Homo sapiens: one gene and its partners. The protein of the gene in region 2 interacts with the protein of the main gene of each other region in a biochemical or structural test. Each region holds a gene or a part of one and is shown on either strand. Other genes may lie near its edges.

Evidence for each region. Proteins that work in one complex are often made in the same cells at the same time.
Region 1: the proteins of OTUD5 (region 2) and PDCD5 form a complex in vitro, tested with the Homo sapiens proteins (one study listed by BioGRID).
Region 3: the proteins of OTUD5 (region 2) and UBR5 form a complex in vitro, tested with the Homo sapiens proteins (2 studies listed by BioGRID, with this or other methods).

The regions. Positions count from the first base shown.
Region 1 is NC_000019.10:32,584,165-32,587,961, forward strand, and holds the end of PDCD5 (programmed cell death protein 5), read left to right. Parts: intron 1-785; coding exon 786-847; intron 848-1,651; coding exon 1,652-1,743; coding exon of another isoform or gene 1,744-1,875; exon of another isoform or gene 1,876-2,693; coding exon 2,694-2,765; intron 2,766-3,088; coding exon 3,089-3,136; 3' UTR 3,137-3,289; downstream 3,290-3,797. UniProt on the Homo sapiens protein: May function in the process of apoptosis.
Region 2 is NC_000023.11:48,947,588-48,954,620, forward strand, and holds part of OTUD5 (OTU domain-containing protein 5), read right to left. Parts: intron 1-7,033. UniProt on the Homo sapiens protein: Deubiquitinating enzyme that functions as a negative regulator of the innate immune system. Has peptidase activity towards 'Lys-48'- and 'Lys-63'-linked polyubiquitin chains. Can also cleave 'Lys-11'-linked ubiquitin chains (in vitro).
Region 3 is NC_000008.11:102,409,693-102,416,631, forward strand, and holds the start of UBR5 (E3 ubiquitin-protein ligase UBR5), read right to left. Parts: upstream 3,009-6,939; 5' UTR 2,543-3,008; coding exon 2,481-2,542; intron 1-2,480. UniProt on the Homo sapiens protein: E3 ubiquitin-protein ligase involved in different protein quality control pathways in the cytoplasm and nucleus. Mainly acts as a ubiquitin chain elongator that extends pre-ubiquitinated substrates.

The DNA of each region.
Region 1 (3,797 bases), on a different chromosome or scaffold from region 2:
GCAGTACTCAAACCATAAAGAAGTGGCCTATGGAAATGAGCTTTAAGCCACATTCCATGAACCGAAGGGCCTCTGAGCTGGGAGTGGATAGTGGGCACAGCCAGCCCCAGCTCTCCCTCTCAGTTGAGCCAAAGCATCTGTGCTCATTTGTTTTTAGATTTCTTAAAGGATTTCATTTGAAAGAAAAAAGAAACAAGTCCATGAGACCACTGTCCTGTGAACGTGAACTACTTTCTATTTGGGTAGGTAGGAAGAAGTGAGGATAGTTGCAAAGTTATAATTTCATTCCCCTTCCCCACCCAGAAAAATAGAACTGAGAGTCTTAAAACATGGAATCTGGCTGTAGCTTGGCCACAGTTACCTATGTCTCTTTAGCATAGCCTCCTGGATCTCAGCTTTATCTCTAAGAAAATGATATAGATTAGTCACATGGTCCTTCTAATTGCCTGAAATCCCACTATAAATTTCTAGCACCTGTCACGCAATAGGTACTTAAGAAATGTTGGTGATGGTGTTTGAACTGAGGCTCCACTCTGATGAAACTGTAAAGCTCACCTTCCAGCCTGGTAGGTTGTCACCTGTGTAATATAAAGCTGGTTCTTTGAGGGCAAAAGGGGATTCTACTTGAATGTAGCTGCAGCCTTATGTACAGCAACTACCATAATGCAGTTTGTATACCGCAGGCCCCATGTGGAGACACATACTGGATGGGTTCTTTCTCGTATGTTACATGGGAATGCCGACAGCTGTGTTTTAATTGTGTTTGACCTATGTTTTCGTTGTAGGGAAGCAGAAATGAGAAACAGTATCTTAGCCCAAGTTCTGGATCAGTCGGCCCGGGCCAGGTGTAAGCATCTTTGATTTCATTTCCATAAAGTTAGCTTGAGTTAGTTGAATGGGGTGATTAGATACCATTATTGCTATCACTAGATGAAATATTTGCTTAGGCTGAAAACACTTGAGATGTGTAAGAAGTGTGAAGTTTATAAACCTAGAGAACTGTACTTTAATCCCTAGTAAAAGTACCAGGTCACTTCTCTTACCAAGATGTTCTCCAGGTGTGTATTAGGTAAGATTTATAGGAAACAACTCATAGGGCCAATCACAAAATGTTGCTGGTAGTTGACATTTTGTGTCAACTGGTGATGGGGACTGGGGATGGGGGACTTAGGGGCTTTTTATATGTATTGTCAGTTTTAGTGTATGTTCAGAGTTGTTCATCATAAAAACCAAAACCTGTAGAAAGAAAAAATGAGACAGTCAGAATGAACTGGTATTTTCTGTATTTTAACTGGAAGCCCAGTTTGAGTGTAGAAAAGGCGGCCACAGGTGGATCACCACCATTATGTGTAATAGATAAACCGCTTTCCAGAGGGCAGTCATATATTTTAAGAAACAGGAAGCATGGTGCTTAGAATCTGAGAACCCAACTTTAATCTTGGCTGGGCCACTACCCCCATGTGCCCATGTGGAGATTGGCATGGGTGAACTTCAGTTTTCTCATTTTTAAGAGGAGTAACAATACTGTCTTGCCCTACACTGAGGGACAAGCTTGTGAAGTGCTTTGGAAAGGTCAATGCATAGTTTTAAGGTATAACATAAGTGCATTTGATTTTAATGGATTTTTTGCATATGTATTTTTTCTTTTTAGTAAGTAACTTAGCACTTGTAAAGCCTGAAAAAACTAAAGCAGTAGAGAATTACCTTATACAGATGGCAAGATATGGACAACTAAGTGAGAAGGTAAGCTTAGACAGCCTTGAGGAACTTTACTGTTACCTGCTTTATCAAAACATGGCTTCAAAAGGTCAGCTGCATCTTCACTGGATTACAGAATTCTTGCTGACTCTCAGAAGAAATTGTTGGAGAGAATAGTCATACCTACTTTAAAAGAGAATAAATTGCCTTTCCTAAATTCCTCTGCTTCGCTCCTTTCCTGGCGTTGCTCTGGAACCTTGTTGGTGTCTGTGACCCAATGACTGTTAGGGTCAGCTAGCTTCAATTGCCCCTGCACTGGAAGCAAGGTTTGTCAGTAACACCAATTAAAATACTACCAGTGTAAGTAGAAGGTGTGTTTTGCAGATGAGAAGGTGCTAAGATGCCTTGCTTATGTTCTCTGTGTTGCTGTAATACCATGAGGGGTATGTTGTGGCAAACCTGGCCTTTGAGATCAAGACGAACCCCACCTGCCCTGAGAAGCCGTCTGCTACCACCACAGCCTACCCGAATTGGTCCTGTCCCCTAAACCCCTCACACTGAGAACTGCTTGTGTGGGAGAGAGCTGGTTGGGTTGATCTTTTCCGAGTGTGACTTACCTCCTTCAAGGGGATGTTTAAGCTTCTCGGGCAGAAGTGGTGTGTCTATTCCTGACACCAAACACCGTGGTATATGTGGTTGTCACACTCAGCTAGTGATGATAAAGGTGTTCTTAAATATGTTAGCTTTCAGTTTTCCTGAGGAAGCAATTTTATGGATACTTCCCCCTCCTTCTCAAGTGAGGAATAGCAGAGCAAATTTTATTTGGAACTTAAACCAATAGTTATAACCAATAGTTTCAACCTCCTGCCTCACCACTGCTTCCTTCCTGAGCTCTTTCCCCACACCTCAAAAAGAGTACAAAGTGATTCCATCTGCAGAGGTAAATTCTTTGTTTAAAAAAGTACTGTTTTTCTTATCTTTTCTGGTTCTCCTAGGTATCAGAACAAGGTTTAATAGAAATCCTTAAAAAAGTAAGCCAACAAACAGAAAAGACAACAACAGTGAAAGTAAGTGTCCCCAGATGCTTGTGGCAAATGAAAAGATGGATACTTTAAAGATTAATGTTGAGTATACATCTACCACACATATTTTTCAGCCCAGAGACATTTTCCTTTTGTCAAACACGTGAAAGTTTGGGGAGAAAGGCTGAATCTGTTGGGGGAGGGTTCTAATTTTTATAGGCTCTTGACTCCATTCCCACCCTTTTAGTTCACGCTAAGTTGCTTTAAAGACACAAATGTCTTGCTAAAATTGGTAGAAATCTTTTCTCGGAAAATCTGAGTTATGCTTTATTAGAAATGTTCTGACACTCATTTAATTTTCCTCCCAGTTCAACAGAAGAAAAGTAATGGACTCTGATGAAGATGACGATTATTGAACTACAAGTGCTCACAGACTAGAACTTAACGGAACAAGTCTAGGACAGAAGTTAAGATCTGATTATTTACTTTGTTTATTGTCTATATGCCTTTTAAAAAAATAAACTTGTTATGCAAAATAAAACATTTGGGTAAGTTGTTTTAGTATCATAGCCAAGTGGCCAGATCTGTGTTTTGAATTTTTCCCCTTCCTACCAAAAGCTTTTTTTATTTTTATTTTTGTTATTATACTTTAAGTTTTAGGGTACATGTGCACAATGTGCAGGTTAGTTACATATGTATACATGTGCCATGCTGGTGCGCTGCACCCACTAACTTGTCATCTAGCATTAGGTATATCTCCCAATGCTATCCCTCCCCCCTCCCCCCACCCCACAAGAGTCCCCAGAGTGTGATGTTCCCCTTCCTGTGTCCATGTGTTCTCATTGTTCAGTTCCCACCTATGAGTGAGAATATGCGGTGTTTGGTTTTTTGTTCTTGCGATAGTTTACTGAGAATGATGATTTCCAATTTCATCCATGTCCCTACAAAGGACATGAACTCATCATTTTTTATGGCTGCATAGTATTCCATGGTGTATATGTGCCACATTTTCTTAATCCAGTCTATCATTGTGGGACATTTGGGTTGGTTCCAAGTCTTCGCTATTGTGAATAGTGC
Region 2 (7,033 bases):
AGCTACTCGGGAGGCTGAGGCAGGAGAATCGCTTGAACCCGGGAGGCGGAGGTTGTGGTGAGCCAAGATCGCACCATTGCACTCCAGCCTGGGCAATAAGAGCAAAACTCTGTCTCAAGGAAAAAAAAAAAAAAGAAAAAAAGAAACACAGTCATTAAGGCTAGCACCTGAGAGGAGGTGCCACCTGACCAAAGGATTAAAACACCAAGACCTCCAAAAATGCTTGTTAACTGGATGAGAAATGAAGTCACTTCTGCCACGAAGTACCAGGAATGCCTGGAGCCCAGCAATGAATTCAGTAGAGCTAAAGTTCTGGGTAGTACTAGGCAGGTAAGCAGGGAGGACCAGGAAGAAAGATGAACTCATATTAACTGAATACCTGCCCCATGCCAGATGCAAAGGGTGACCTCGTTTAATTTTCCTGACCACAGCCCAGGTGGCAGGAAACATTACCCTCACTTTACAAAGGCAGAAAGGAGGCCAGACACGGTGGCTCACGCCTGTAATCCCAGCACTTTGGGAGGCCAAGGCGGAAGGATCATCTGAGGTTAGGAGTTTAAGACCAGCCTGGCCGACATGGCGAAGCCTTGTCTCTACTGAAAATACAAAAAATTAGCAGGGCGTGGTGGCGTGTGCCTGTAATCCCAGTTACTTGGGAGGCTGAGACAGGAGAATCGCTTGAACTCGGGAGGTGGAGGTTGCAGTGAGCCGAGATGGCACCATTGCACCCCAGCCAGCCTGGGCAACAGAGCAAGACTATGTCTCAAAAACAAAAACAAAAACAAAACAAAAAACAAAAAAACAAAGGCAGAAAGAGAAAGGAGCTGGAGTTTGGATACCAGCAAAGCCTAGTGTAGAGGCAACAGGGAAGGCCCCCACGAGCCACAGCATGGAGGACATACCTTGCAGCCCATCCACAGAATATCCTGGTTTGTCTCTAAACATGAAAGAGACCTGAATAGGCCCCTCGCACTGCAGGGTTTGGGTCCTGGGGCAGTCAAACTGGCATCCAGGCTTGGATCTAGAGGCTGGACTGCTAGCCACCCACTGGCTTTGTCATCAGCAGCCTGAGGAGTTTGGGCTCTGGCCCTTCTCTTTCTCCTTTTGGGGAGAAAATGTTGCTCAGGAAGGGCTAGTAGGGGTGGGGGGTAGGGGATAGCTCAGCCATAGATAAGTTTAAGCTCCAACAATGCCCTGGCCTGAGGAGATTGTGAACCTTGCAAACTCATCGCTGAGCCTATGGGAAAATCCCTCCATATCTTTGAGCCTCCACAAAAAGGCTGAGTAAAGCTCCCTAACACCAGAGGATCCCAGGAGCTGAGGCAAGATTCTGTAACCTAGTGGTCTAAGGGCCCAAGTGAAGTTGGAGCAGGCTGTGGAACCCAACTGACTTAGGTTCCAATCTAGCTCCACCAATTATTAGCCATGTGATGATGAACTGCTCTGAGCCACAGTTTTCCAATCTGTGAATGGGGATACCAAGCCTCCCAATAATAGGGATGCTGGGCAGACTCAAATATTACAGGGCTTTGCCCAGTAAGAGACCACTTAATGAGTTCCCTTCCCTTCCCCAGGAGGGAAAAAAGCCTCTCTAGTAGGCTGATTAATAGCCACGCAAAGATATCAAACCCTAACCCCCCTGGAACTTGTAAATGTTACCTTATAATGAAAAAGGTAGGGCCAGGCGTCGTGGCTCATGCCTGCAATCCCAGCACTTTGGGAGGCTAAGGCAGGCAGATCGCTTTGAGCTCAAGAGTTCAAGACTAGCCTGGGCAACATGGTGAAATCTCATCTCTACAAAAAATACAGGCCAGGTACGGTGATTCACGCCTGTAATCGCGGCACTCTGGGAGGCCGAGGCGGGTGGATCACCTGAGGTCAGGAGTTCGAGACCAGCCTGGCCAACATGGTGAAACCCTATCTCTACTAAAAATACAAAAATTAGCTGGTCATGGTAGCAGGCGCCTGTAATCCCAACTACTCAGGAGGCTGAGGCAGGAGAATCGCTGGAACCTGGGAGGCGAAGGTTGCAGTGAGCCGAGATAGCACCACTGCACTCCAGCCTGGGTGACACAGCGAGACTCCATCTCAAAAACAAATAAATAAACACCAAAAATTAACCGGGCATGGTGGCTCGCACCTGTGGTCCCAGCTACTCAGGAGGCTGAGGCTGGAGGATCACTTGAGTCCAGGAAGTGGAGGGTGCAGTGAGCCAAGATTACGCCACTGCACTCCAGCCTGGGTGACAGAGGCCAGCACTGTCTGAAAAGAAAAGAAAAGCCCGGGCACAGTGGCTCATGCCTGTAATCCCAGCACTTTGGGAGGCCGAGGCGGGTGGATCAACTAAGGTCAGGAGTTTGAAACCAGCCTGGCCAACATGGCAAAACCCCATCTCTACTAAAAATACAAAAATTAGCCAGGTGTGGTGGTGGGCGCCTGCAATCCCAGCTACTCAGGAGGGTGAGGCAGGAGAATAGCTTGAACCCAGGAGGCGGAGGTTGCGGTGAGCCGAGACTGCGCCTGGGTGACAGAGTGAGATTCCACCTCAAAAAAAAAAAAAAAAAGAGAAGAGAAAAGAAAAAAAGTGTTTGCAGATGTAATTAACTTACATTATTAAATCTGGAGATGGGGGGTTATCTTAGAGTATCAGGTAGGACCTAAATGCAATCACAAGTGTCCTTATAAAAGAGAGACAGAGGGAAATTTGATACAGACAGAAAAGGAAACCACATATACAGAGAAGGCGATGGTGAAGATGGAGGCAGAGATTAGAATGATGCAGTCATAAACCAAGGAATGTTGGCAGCCACGAGAGGCTAGAGAAGGTCTAAATTCTCCCTGAGAGCTTCCAGAAGGAGTGTGGCCCTGCCAACACTTTGATTTGGATGCAGTGAAACTGATTGTGGACTTCTGGCCTCCAGAATTGTGACAGAATAAACTTCTCTCTCTCTTTTTTTTTTTTTTTTTTTTTTTGAGATGGAGTCTCGCTCTGTCACCCAGGCTGGAGTGCAGTGGCGCAATCTCAGCTTACTGCAACCCCCACCTCACTGCAACCTCCAATCCGTCTCCTGGGTTCAAGCAATTCTCTGCCTCAGCCTCCCGAGTAGCTGGGATTACAGGCACCCACCACCACACCCAGCTAATTTTTATATTTTTAGTAGAGATGGGGTTTTACTATCTTGGCCAGGCTGGTCTTGAACTCCTGACCTCGTGATCCACCCGCCTCGGCCTCCCAAAGTGCTGGGATTACAGGGGTGAGCCACCGCACCCGGCCAACTTCTGTTGTTTTAAACCACCCAGTCTGTGGTAACATTTGTCACAACAGCCACAGGAAACTAACACACCCCCCTTGGTAGCACTCCTTGGTGTCTGTTCCCTAGTGCCTCACAGGTGTGAGACAATATGGCATGGATCCCGCTCTGCAAGGTCCACCTGCCTACCATCCTCCAGGGTGGGAGGTTAGAATTAAGGCAGCAGGGGCCTGGAATCTCCCTTCTCACCCTGGGAAACTACTGACCCTGCCTATGGATGGATGAGCTGCCACTGAAGTGGGGGTGGGGTGGGGGGGCAAAAGATGGCAGCAGCAGTGGCAGTTCATGGACAGATGTCTTCCCAGAGCCTATGGTCAAAAGGTGTTTAGCATTCTGTGACTCACAGCTCTGTCCCAGCAGCCCTGGTGCCAAGACCACCCCCTCCAGCAAAGCACCCAGGAACACTAGCCTGGCTCCATGGACAAAACACAGGGGGCCAGGCGTGGTGGCTCACGCCTGTAATCCCAGCACTTTGGGAGGCCGAGGTGGGCGGATCACGAAGTCAGGAGATCGAGATCATCCTGGCTAACACAGTGAATCCCTGTCTCTACTAAAAATACAAAAATATTAGCCAGACGAGGTGGCAGGCACCTGTAGTTCCAGCTACTCGGGAGGCTGAGGCAGGAGAATGGTGTGAACCTGGGAGGTGGAGGTTGCAGTGAGCCAAGATCGCGCCACTACACTCCAGCCTGGGGGACAGAGTGAGACTCCATCTCAAAAAAAAACACACACAGGCAACCCATCCAACGAGGAACATAGACACACTACTCTCTAAGGACCAACACAAGCCCTCCAGGGCAGAAGGGGAGAAGAGCAAGGCCCCAACATTTGGCTAGGCCACTGAGGGCAGGGGGATTAAAAACCTCTAAGATTGGCAGGGTGCGGTGACTCACACCTGTAATCCCAGCACTTTGGGAGGCCAAGGCAGGCAGATCACCTGAGGTCAGGAGTTCAGGAGACCAGCTTTGCCAACATGGTGAAACCCCATCTCTACTAAATATACAAAAATTAGCCGGGTGTGGTGGCAGATGCCTGTAGCCCCAGCTACTTGGGAGGCTGAGGCAGGAGAATCACTTGAACCCGGAAGCCGGAGGTTGCAGCGACCTGAGATTGCGCCACTGCACTCCAGCCTGGGCAGCAGAGCAAGACTCCACCTTAAAAAAAAAACAAAAACAAAAACAAAAACCAAAAAACAAAAAAACCCAAGGTCCTGTTATTCAGTAATAGAAAGGAATGAAGCACTGATGTATGCTACAACATGGATAAGCCTTGAACATATTATGCTAAGTGAAAAAAGCCAAGTAACAAACAACTGCATATTCTATTATTCCATTTACATGAAACATCCAGAACAGACAAATCAATCAAGCCAGAAAGTAGATTAGTGGTTGCCAGAGGCTGGAAAGGGATGAGGAAATTGGGGGATCATAGCTAAAGAGTGCTGGATTTCTCTTTAAGGTGATGAAAATGTTCTAAAATGGACTGTAGTGATGTGATGGACGCACAAATCTGTGAATATACTAAAAGCCACTGAACTGTACACTTCAAAGAGGTGAATAGTATGGTACATGAATTACATCTCATTAAAGTTGTTAAAAGAAACACACCCAAGGGCTCAGCACCAGCCAAGGACGCTGAACACTGCTTGAAATGTCCTAGCACAATCCCCAAAGGCCAAGGGGTCCCACTTAAAACTTTCATGAAGGGTGAGGGGAGTGGGAGCAGGGAGGAGACTATAACTTGCTTCAGAGCAATGAGTCCAACCTCCCTCCTCAACACTACCCATTTCATGGAGGGAGAAACCAAGAACCAGAAAAGAGAACTGCCTGAAGACCACAGAAAAGCTTACTGCAGAAACAGGACTCAAATCCACGTTGCCTGGGCAGAGACCCCTTCCTGCTTCCCCACCAGCTAGCTACCCAATTCCAGTTGGGGTAAGAAGAGCCCAAGAAATCAGCAGGTTCCTAGATGCCAAATGAAGGGCCTTTGCTATCAAAGATAGGTTACTAGGAGTGGACAAAGGCTCCTAGGAAGAACCAAGATGACCCTGGGGCAAACTGCCCATTCTGGGCAAGAGGAAGAACCGGCCAAGGTCCAAGGTGTGCAAGGTCAGACACACCTGGGCATGGACAAACTTTTGCAAAATGGGCAGCTGAGGGGGCAAGTAGTTTGCCTAAAGCTATAAAGCAGGTAAGGAGGAGATGCTGAGGTCTGGAGGTGATGAGAGAATTGAGGGATGATGGCTCAAAGCTTGCCTTGCTCCAAAGCCCAAACTCCACACACAACTCTACCTCTCTACACCACTATCCAACAGGCCTCCTGACAGGAAATCCCATCGAGCTTGTTCATTACAACATGGCTGCCCACAAAAAATGGCTGTTCATCAACCCTGAGCCTCACACAAAACAGGCTGCTTGTCCTGCCCACCAAGCTTGGATGGCTGAGAGGGAACAGAGGAGCCAGGAAGAGAGGGGAGAAACCCAGTTCCTCCTCAAAAGACATCCACCATTCTTTGCCACCTCCAGGTCCAGAGAACTTTGGACTGAGTTCCCTAAAATCCCAAAGCTAAACAACACCTCACCAGCATTTTGCCTGGCCAGTGAGGAAACTGAGGCCCAGAGAGCATAGGTAGAACCTACCCTGGTTCATCCAGCAAAGCCTTGAAAGACCCAGAGTTGGAACCCAGGCACCAACTACCGTGCCACACCCAGCTTTTTCCACCACCTCAGTTCACATGCCCCTTCTCAAAGAGCTCTGTGGGGTCTCCAAACTCAGGATGCTTACAGGCCAACCTTTTCATAGAGCAGACTCTCAGCAAGGCAGCCATGCCTGGGAACCCCTGACATCACCACCCACCCAGCACCTGGACCCCAGAGTGCCAAAAAGACTCCTAAAGGAAGTAGGGATACAAGAGAATCAGGACAAAGAGGAAGCCCAAGTAGTCAGAACCCCAGAATCGCCATCTAGACTCCCCCTCAACGACGCCTCTCTTCCCAAGGGATCCAACTGACCTCCAGGCTACAACCACCCCTAGTGACAGTTTAGGACCAAGACTGGGGTGGCAGGAGGAATCTTCCCTCTTCTCATCCCCAAAAGCTCTCAAGTTGGACCAGGTGAGGCAGGGAGAAGAGGATCACCTTCTTTGTCCTAAGAAGTGTGGGGACAGAAAGCCTCTCCTGTCATTGGGAAGGGCAGGTTTCATGAACCCACAAAACTTGATTTTCATATTCTTTTTTTTTTATTAGTAAAGATGAGGTCTCGCTATGTTGCCAAGCAGGTCTTGAACTCCAGGGCTCAAGTGATCCTCCCGCCTCAGCCTCCCGAGTAGCTGGGACTACAGGCATGCGCCACTATGCCCGGCTTACTCTTATGTTCTTATGGGGACAAGTATAAGGGAGGGACTGCAAGGGGCATAAGGAAGTGTTTTTGAGTTACCATGGCAGCATAGGATGTTCTTTCTCTCTGTCCCTGGGACCAGGGATGTATCGCAAGGGAGGGGAGTAAGGAGGTGTTTTTGAATTATCATGGCTGCATAGGATGTTTTTCCTCTGTCCCTAGGACCAGTGATGTATGGCTCCCTGCTTCTAGAGGAGGAAAGAAACTACCCAACCAGAGAGAGAAGAAATAACTGGTCCTGACCCTTGAGTACAAATGGCTTATCGTGCCAGAATTAATGATGGGAGGAAGGGACCAAGAACAAGGAGCTCAAGACAAGGCTTGGG
Region 3 (6,939 bases), on a different chromosome or scaffold from region 2:
ATGAAAATACGCTTATTCTAGTTAATTAAAAGGTTCCAGAAAACCAGTCTCTTTTGGAAACAGATTTTTCTCAAGTGACAGGTTGATCCTATTACAAGTAGGTATGCAAAAAGGAGCCCTCCTTTTGAAAGGGAAACACAGAACAGCTCCTGCCACAAATCAGCTACTTCAAAACTTAGGATATGTGCCTATCTTAAATGCTGCCTTCACAAATCTCAAAAGGCAAGACATGTTTACCGCTACTAGATACAACCATATAGCTCTTTATAATTTCACCTACGGCACCTTTCTATTTTTCAAATATCTGCCACCTTGATGCACATGTTATGACTCAAGTCTACTTTTTTCCTAATTTCATGAAATTAAAAGTCACTATGATCTAAATATTTTTAATGTTGTATAATGATAGAAGAATCAAACAAAGCTGATTGTTTATACTAGGAATGGAAAAAGAAGAGTTAGCATTTAAAAAGATACATTACTTGTAAATTTCTCAAATAGCTGAAGCAAAAGGAATGCTCAAAAATGAATCAAAGTGCCCAACACAACCGCAAAATAGGTTTTGGCATGCACAGCCAACTGAGTAAGCTAGTCAGGTTTCTTGGTACATAAAGTTAGGACTAATATAGAAAACATGCCCTACCTCTCTTCTCTCTGGTGCGGTTTTCTAAGTAACAAGACAAGCACTACCAACATGGTTCTGTTAATGACCGTAGAGCTATCCTCACTACTAGCCTGTTTCTAAATTTTACCAAAAAATTTTATGTTAATGTCTCCAAAAGATCTTTAATGAAGTAAAGTCAGGCTAAGAACCACATAACAAAATGTTAAATAACTAAAAAGTTATTTCAGAATTTAAAGGAACTATGTGACAACTCTGAGTAGTTAGTATTTTCAGTAAGTATTTCAAAAGATTCCCAAACATGTTAAATACAATATGGCTACAGCAAAGATTAGGCAAATCCGAACCAAGTGCAGAAACTAAACCGCCAGCTCTGGATTTAAAAGCTGTCTGCTCCACTTGAGGCGGTTAGATACACTGACACAAGAGGCCAGTATCTCAGCAGCAAGTTAGGCCTCTTCCTCCCTCTGGGAAGCGCATGACAAACAGGGCATCATGCAACTTAAGTCACCCGGTCACTTAGCAAAAATTCTATGTAACTTCTAAACTTGGGACCAGATGGCCTTCTATACGCAAAAGAAATGTAGAGAGCAGTGAAGTACTGGGAGAGAGGAAGACTTAAAATGCTCCACTTTGTGATCCTGTAAACATTTAGCCCATCATTAGATCTGAGTCTTAGATTCTAAGACATGCTTTAATGGAGGCCTCCCTCAACCTCCTGAGTCTGTTTTCCAACAGTGAAGGAACTTTTCCTGCCTTATCTCAGTTCCCTGAGAGCATGCGGCACTGCAATTCAATATCCTAAACTGGCAAGGAACGGTGGCGGAAGAAAAGGAGAAATCCAAACCAAAACAGCCTATAAAAGACAAAACATAAAATAAAATCATAATTCATCCTCCGCCCATAGCAAACCCAACCCAGAAATTTACAGCGTGTTAAGAAAAGCAGCATTGCGAACTGCAAACGTAAGAGTTTTCCTTTGACACTCTACGCACGGTTTTCAGCTGTCAAATTACAACTCAGGAAAACACTATCATTAGAATAGAAAAGGAAACAAAAAAGCTCGCACCACAGGGGCTAGTAGCAGGAGCTGCCAGCACCATTTCAGGAGGAGAGTAAAGGGAATCCAATGCACTTCCCCACCCCCGCTTGAATCCATCCCCTCCCGGGGCAGGCAAACCTCACTGCAGGGGCTCAAATTTAATAATAATAACAATAATCATGGCGCTTCCTCCCTCACTCCCTCCCCCAACTATCACCTTCCCCCCACCCCCCGCCCGCTCCCAGCAATCTGCCGGGAATCGGCTTCTCTCCCCAACCCGACCCCGGGATCCCCAGGTCCAGACCACCCCACCGGACACAGCTGCCGGGGGCCCGGGACAAGCCCAGCCCAGCCCACCCCGGGGCCCCTGGCCCCGCTTCTCCTCTTCCCTCTCTTTTTACCTCCACCATCCCCCATCCGCATTGTCTGTCTCAATTCAACTTTGACTAATATGGATTCCTCGGGCCTTGGCCGGGCAGTAATTACCGCCTGCCCCCCGGGAGCCAGAAACCACCCCCCCATCTCCGCCGAGTTCAACGCCGCTCCTTGCGGGAGGGGGAAGGGGGTTTACAGAGCGCTCTCCAGTCTACACCGCGAGTCCCGTCTACACCGCGCTCCCCCCGCGGCCCCCTGCCCCCGGGATGAGAAGTTTGCCCCGGAAGGAGCCTAGCAGGAGGCAGTAAGGACCCCCGCACCCCACCCCAGCTGGCCGGCCGGCGCGTAAACACCCGCACCCGCCCGGCACGGCCCGTGGGGGAGGGGAGGGAGGGAAGGGCGCCCCTCCCCCCGCGCCCGCCGACCCGCCAGCCCTATTACCTGTCATTGAGCTGGTCCTCGGTGCCCGGCAGCGGGTGAACCACGAAATGGATGGACGTCATGGTGCTTTCCTTCTCGTCCTCCACTCGAGGGCGGCCCCCTCCCGCTCTCGCCCGCCCCCCAGCCCTCTACCCCTCCCCAAAACCCACAGCCGCCGCCGCCTCCCAGTCCCCAAATGGAGGGAAGCAAATACGCAGGGGCCGCCGCCGCCTCCCTGCCGGGCGTGTGTCCGCGGCCCGGAGGGGCGGGCAGGAGGGCGAATCCACACGCCACCCGCTCCCCCGGCGACAGCGCGGAGTGCGAGGCAGGCGGCCGGGACCAGGGGCGCGCCGCCGGCCAGCGGCAGACGGGCGTTGGGAGAGGGGCGGCCGGGGGAGGAGAGGGGCGGCTGCTGGCTGCGGGCTACGGGGACGGTCTGGTCCCGGCGGCGGACGGGGTCCGGACTAGGGGAGGTGAGGAAGGAGGGGAAGGAGATGAGCCCGCACCGCGCGTCACTAGCGAGAAGCTGCCGCCGCCATCTTCACTTCTGCCCCAGTTTCTCCGTCTCGCAGGCTCCGCTCCGGAGCGGCGGGGGAGGGGCAAACGGGAGGAGGAGGAGGGAGGAGACCGGCGGGCGGGGGCGCGGCGGCGAGAGGCGGGGCTCCGGGAAACGGGCGGCAAGGCCCCCTCGATTGGGCTGCTCAACGTTGTCGGGCCACGACGCTGTAAGGCGCGTGCCGATTGGTCCGTTCGGCTCCCGAGCCCAGCCCCGCCGGGGGTGGGATGTCTCCAGAGTGAGTGTTCCGGAGAGCACGTGTTAGGGAAGGAGGAGGCTGCGGGCTAACCTGCCGGGAGGGAGGGTAAGTGTGTGTCCCAGAGGAGGCGAGGAGGAAGAGGGGCTCTTGTGTTCTTTCGCTCGGATTCCCCTGGGGCAGCCCTAATTATTTGGCGGATCCTTAGGGGTTTCTTGTTGCTTCTCATCCTTCATCCGCAGTTGTATTTATGGTGAAGTTGGTAAAATCAGTTAAGGGGCAAGACATATACAGCCTTTTATTGGAAAAGTAAGGAAATTATGTAAGGGCCTTTCCAGAAGGAGATAGTAGGATCCTGGAGTTGGCTTTGCAGCAACTTCTATTACCTCGGTCTCCCCAGTTTCCTCACCACCATCACATGCCCAAAGACAAAATGTGGAAATTTCCACTAATTTCCTGATATAAATGATTCGTGATTTTTTATTACTTTTAAATGAAAGATGATAAACCTGTTCTACAAAGGAGTTCAATTTATGATCAGTGGAATCAGAACGGAAAATTATTATTTTTTTTTTTTTTTTCCCCGAGACGGAGTTTCGCTCTTGTTGCCCAGGCTGGAGTGCAATGGCGCGGTCTCGGCTCACCTCAACCTCCGCCTCCCGGGTTCAAGCGATTTTCCTGTCTCAGTCTATGGAGTAGCTGGGATTACAGGCATGTGTCACCACGTCCGGCTAATTTTGTATTTCTTTTTTAGTAGAGATGTGGTTTCACCATGTTGGCCAGGCTGGTCTCGAACTCCTGACCTCAGGTGATCCACCCGCCTCGGCCTCCCAAAGTGCTGGGATTACAGGCCTGAGCCACCACGCCTGGCCGAGATAGGATCTTTTATACCGAGTTTCTACTATAAGACACTTTCAGAGTTTTGGCCACGGCGCACAGTGGCTCACGCCTGTAATCCCAGCACTTTGGAAGGCCGAGGATGTCGGATCACCTGAGGTTGGGAGTTCGAGACCAGCCTAGCCAACTTGGTGAAACCCCATCTCTACTAAAAATGCAAAAATTAGCCAGGCATGGCTGTGCGCGCCTGTAAACCCCACTACTCAGGAAGCTGAGGCAGAAGACTTGCTTGAACCTGGCAAGTTGCAGTGAGCTGAGATCATGCCACTGCACTCCAGCCCGGGCAACAGAACGAGACTCCATCTCAAAAAAAAATTTTTTTTAATCAAATAAGTCTGTTTTTTTTTCCCTAAGGAACCAATTCATGACTTTCTTCTCAAAGGTTTCTATGACCTCCTTTAAAAAATAAAGTACCTCTTCGAAGGCAAAAACTGAGAACATGACATTCCTTCTACAGAGGTGGTCTGTTAATGAATTACACACACACACACACAGTTTTGCTTAGGAAGTTCTTCTGAGCAAAATTTATGAAAAAATACTTACAAATCAGGACAGACCTGGTACCCTCAAGGCAGATAATGGAACACTTTTGTAGGTTACCAGCTCAACCATTGGCCCAGATTAGTTTAGACTAAAAAGTGATTTCAAGGTCACTATTAGATGTCCCTGGGAGCCCTGAGGAAGGAAGGTAGACCAGTAGACACTGCTAGATTTCAAGCCAAACAGATCTAAAAAAAATTTTTTTTTTTTGAGACGGAGTCTTTGCTCTGTCGCCCAGGCTGGAGTGCAATGGCACGATCTTGGCTCACTGCCACCTCCGCCTCCTGGGTTCAAGTGATTCTCCTGCCTCAGCCTCCCGAGTAGCTGGGATTACAGGCGCTGCCACCATGCCTGGGTAATTTTTGTATTTTTAGTAGAGACAAGGTTTCACCATGTTGGCCAGGTTGGTCTCGAACTCCTGACCTCAGGTGATCCACCCACCTCGGCCTCCCAAAGTGTTGGGATTACAGGCGTGAGCCACTGCGCCCAGCCCAGATCTAAATTTCAGTTGTTTCTGCTACTTAACTACGTGGCCTTACTTGGATTTAGATTAGTTAGATTTGGCCGGGTGCACTGGCTCACGCCCATAATCCCAGCACTTTGGGAGGCCGAGGTGGGTGGATCACCTGAGGTCAGGAGTTTGAGACCAGCCTGGCCAACATGGTGAAACCCTGTCTCTACTAAAAATACAAAAATTAGCCAGGAGTGTTGGTGTGGCTGTAGTCCCAGCTACTCCAGAGGCTGAGGCAGGAGAATTGCTTGCTCGAACCCGGGAGGTGGAGGTTGCAGTGAGCCAAGATTGTGCCACTGCACTCCAGCCTGGGCGACAGAATGAGAATCTGTCTTAAAAAAAAATTAGTTAGATTTAACCTATCATTGCATCTTTTTTCCTCATTTGTTAAATATTCCATACTAATAGATCTATCTACACAGAGTTGCAGTGAGATCTAAATAAGATAATGTATGTCAGACACCTAGGACAGTTCATATACATAGTAGGCTCAGCAAATGGAAACATTTACTTGTCTGGTGCTATGTTCCAGTTTTTTTTTTTGTTTTTGTTTTTGTTTTTGTTTTTTTGAGGCAGGATTTCACTCCCATCACCCAGGCTGGAGTGCAGTGACATGGCCTCGGCTCACTGCAACCTCCACCTAGCAGGCTCAAGCAATTCTCCTGCACTGGCCTCCCGAGTAGCTGGGTCTACAGGCACAGGCTACCACGCCTGGCTAATTTTTGTATTTTTTGTAAAGGCGGGGTTTTGCCATGTTGCTCAGGCTGGTCTTGATCTCCTGGGCTCAAGCGATCGACCCACCTCGGCCTCCCATCTATGTTCAACTTTTACACCTTATACCTTTTAATACTTGAATCACACTATAGGGTAAATTATAATATCCCTGTTATCTAGATGAGGACACTGGGGCTCAAACACCTGAGGTAAGGACTGAAGCTGATACTGAAACCCCGGTCTTCTGACTTGGATTCCATTGTTCTTTCCACTATACCACTGCTGCCATCTAGAAGTTAATAATTTAGAAGGAACAGACTATTCAAAGCCAATAGAGAAAAAAATTATATGATAAATGGAAGAAGAGTAATGTGGAGGTTGAAGGAGGAAGTGATTCCAGCCAAGAGAATTAAGAAAAGTCACTCAAGCTGAGCTTTCTTTTTTTTTTTTTTTTTTTTTTGAGACGGAGTTTCAACCTTGTTGCCCAGGCTGGAGTGCAGTGGCGCAATCTTGGCTCACTGCAACCTCCGCCTCCCAGATTCAAGCAATTCTCTTGCCTCAGCCTCCTGGGTGGCTAGGATTACAGGTGCCCGCCACAACACCCGGCTAATTTTTTGTATTTTTAGTAGAGACAGGGTTTCACCATGTTGTCCGGGCTGGTCTCGAACTCCTGACCTCAGGTGATCCACCCTCTTCAGCCTCCCAAAGTGCTGGGATTACAGGCTTGAGTCACCACGCCCAGCCAAGCTGAGCTTTCAAGAATGTTCTGAGCAAATAGAATACCTGGCTTAAATCTAATCTTTTTAGAATTGCCCCCAAACAGATCACACCATACCCATAGTTTGCCTTGCTTCTCTTTCTTCCAAATATCTCCTTTGTCTTTTCATTATGCTTTTATCCTGCTTTCAACTCGATTCACCCATTCCTAGTTTCCTAGGACTGAGACTTTTTCTCCTGGTTGAAAGTTGGTCTGCTTCCTCTAGACAGCCTATTGGGAAACTGCCTCTCTGGTCTTTGATAATCATCTTGGCTTTGCTACCTTTTTGTTGTCCCAGATGGCATATTA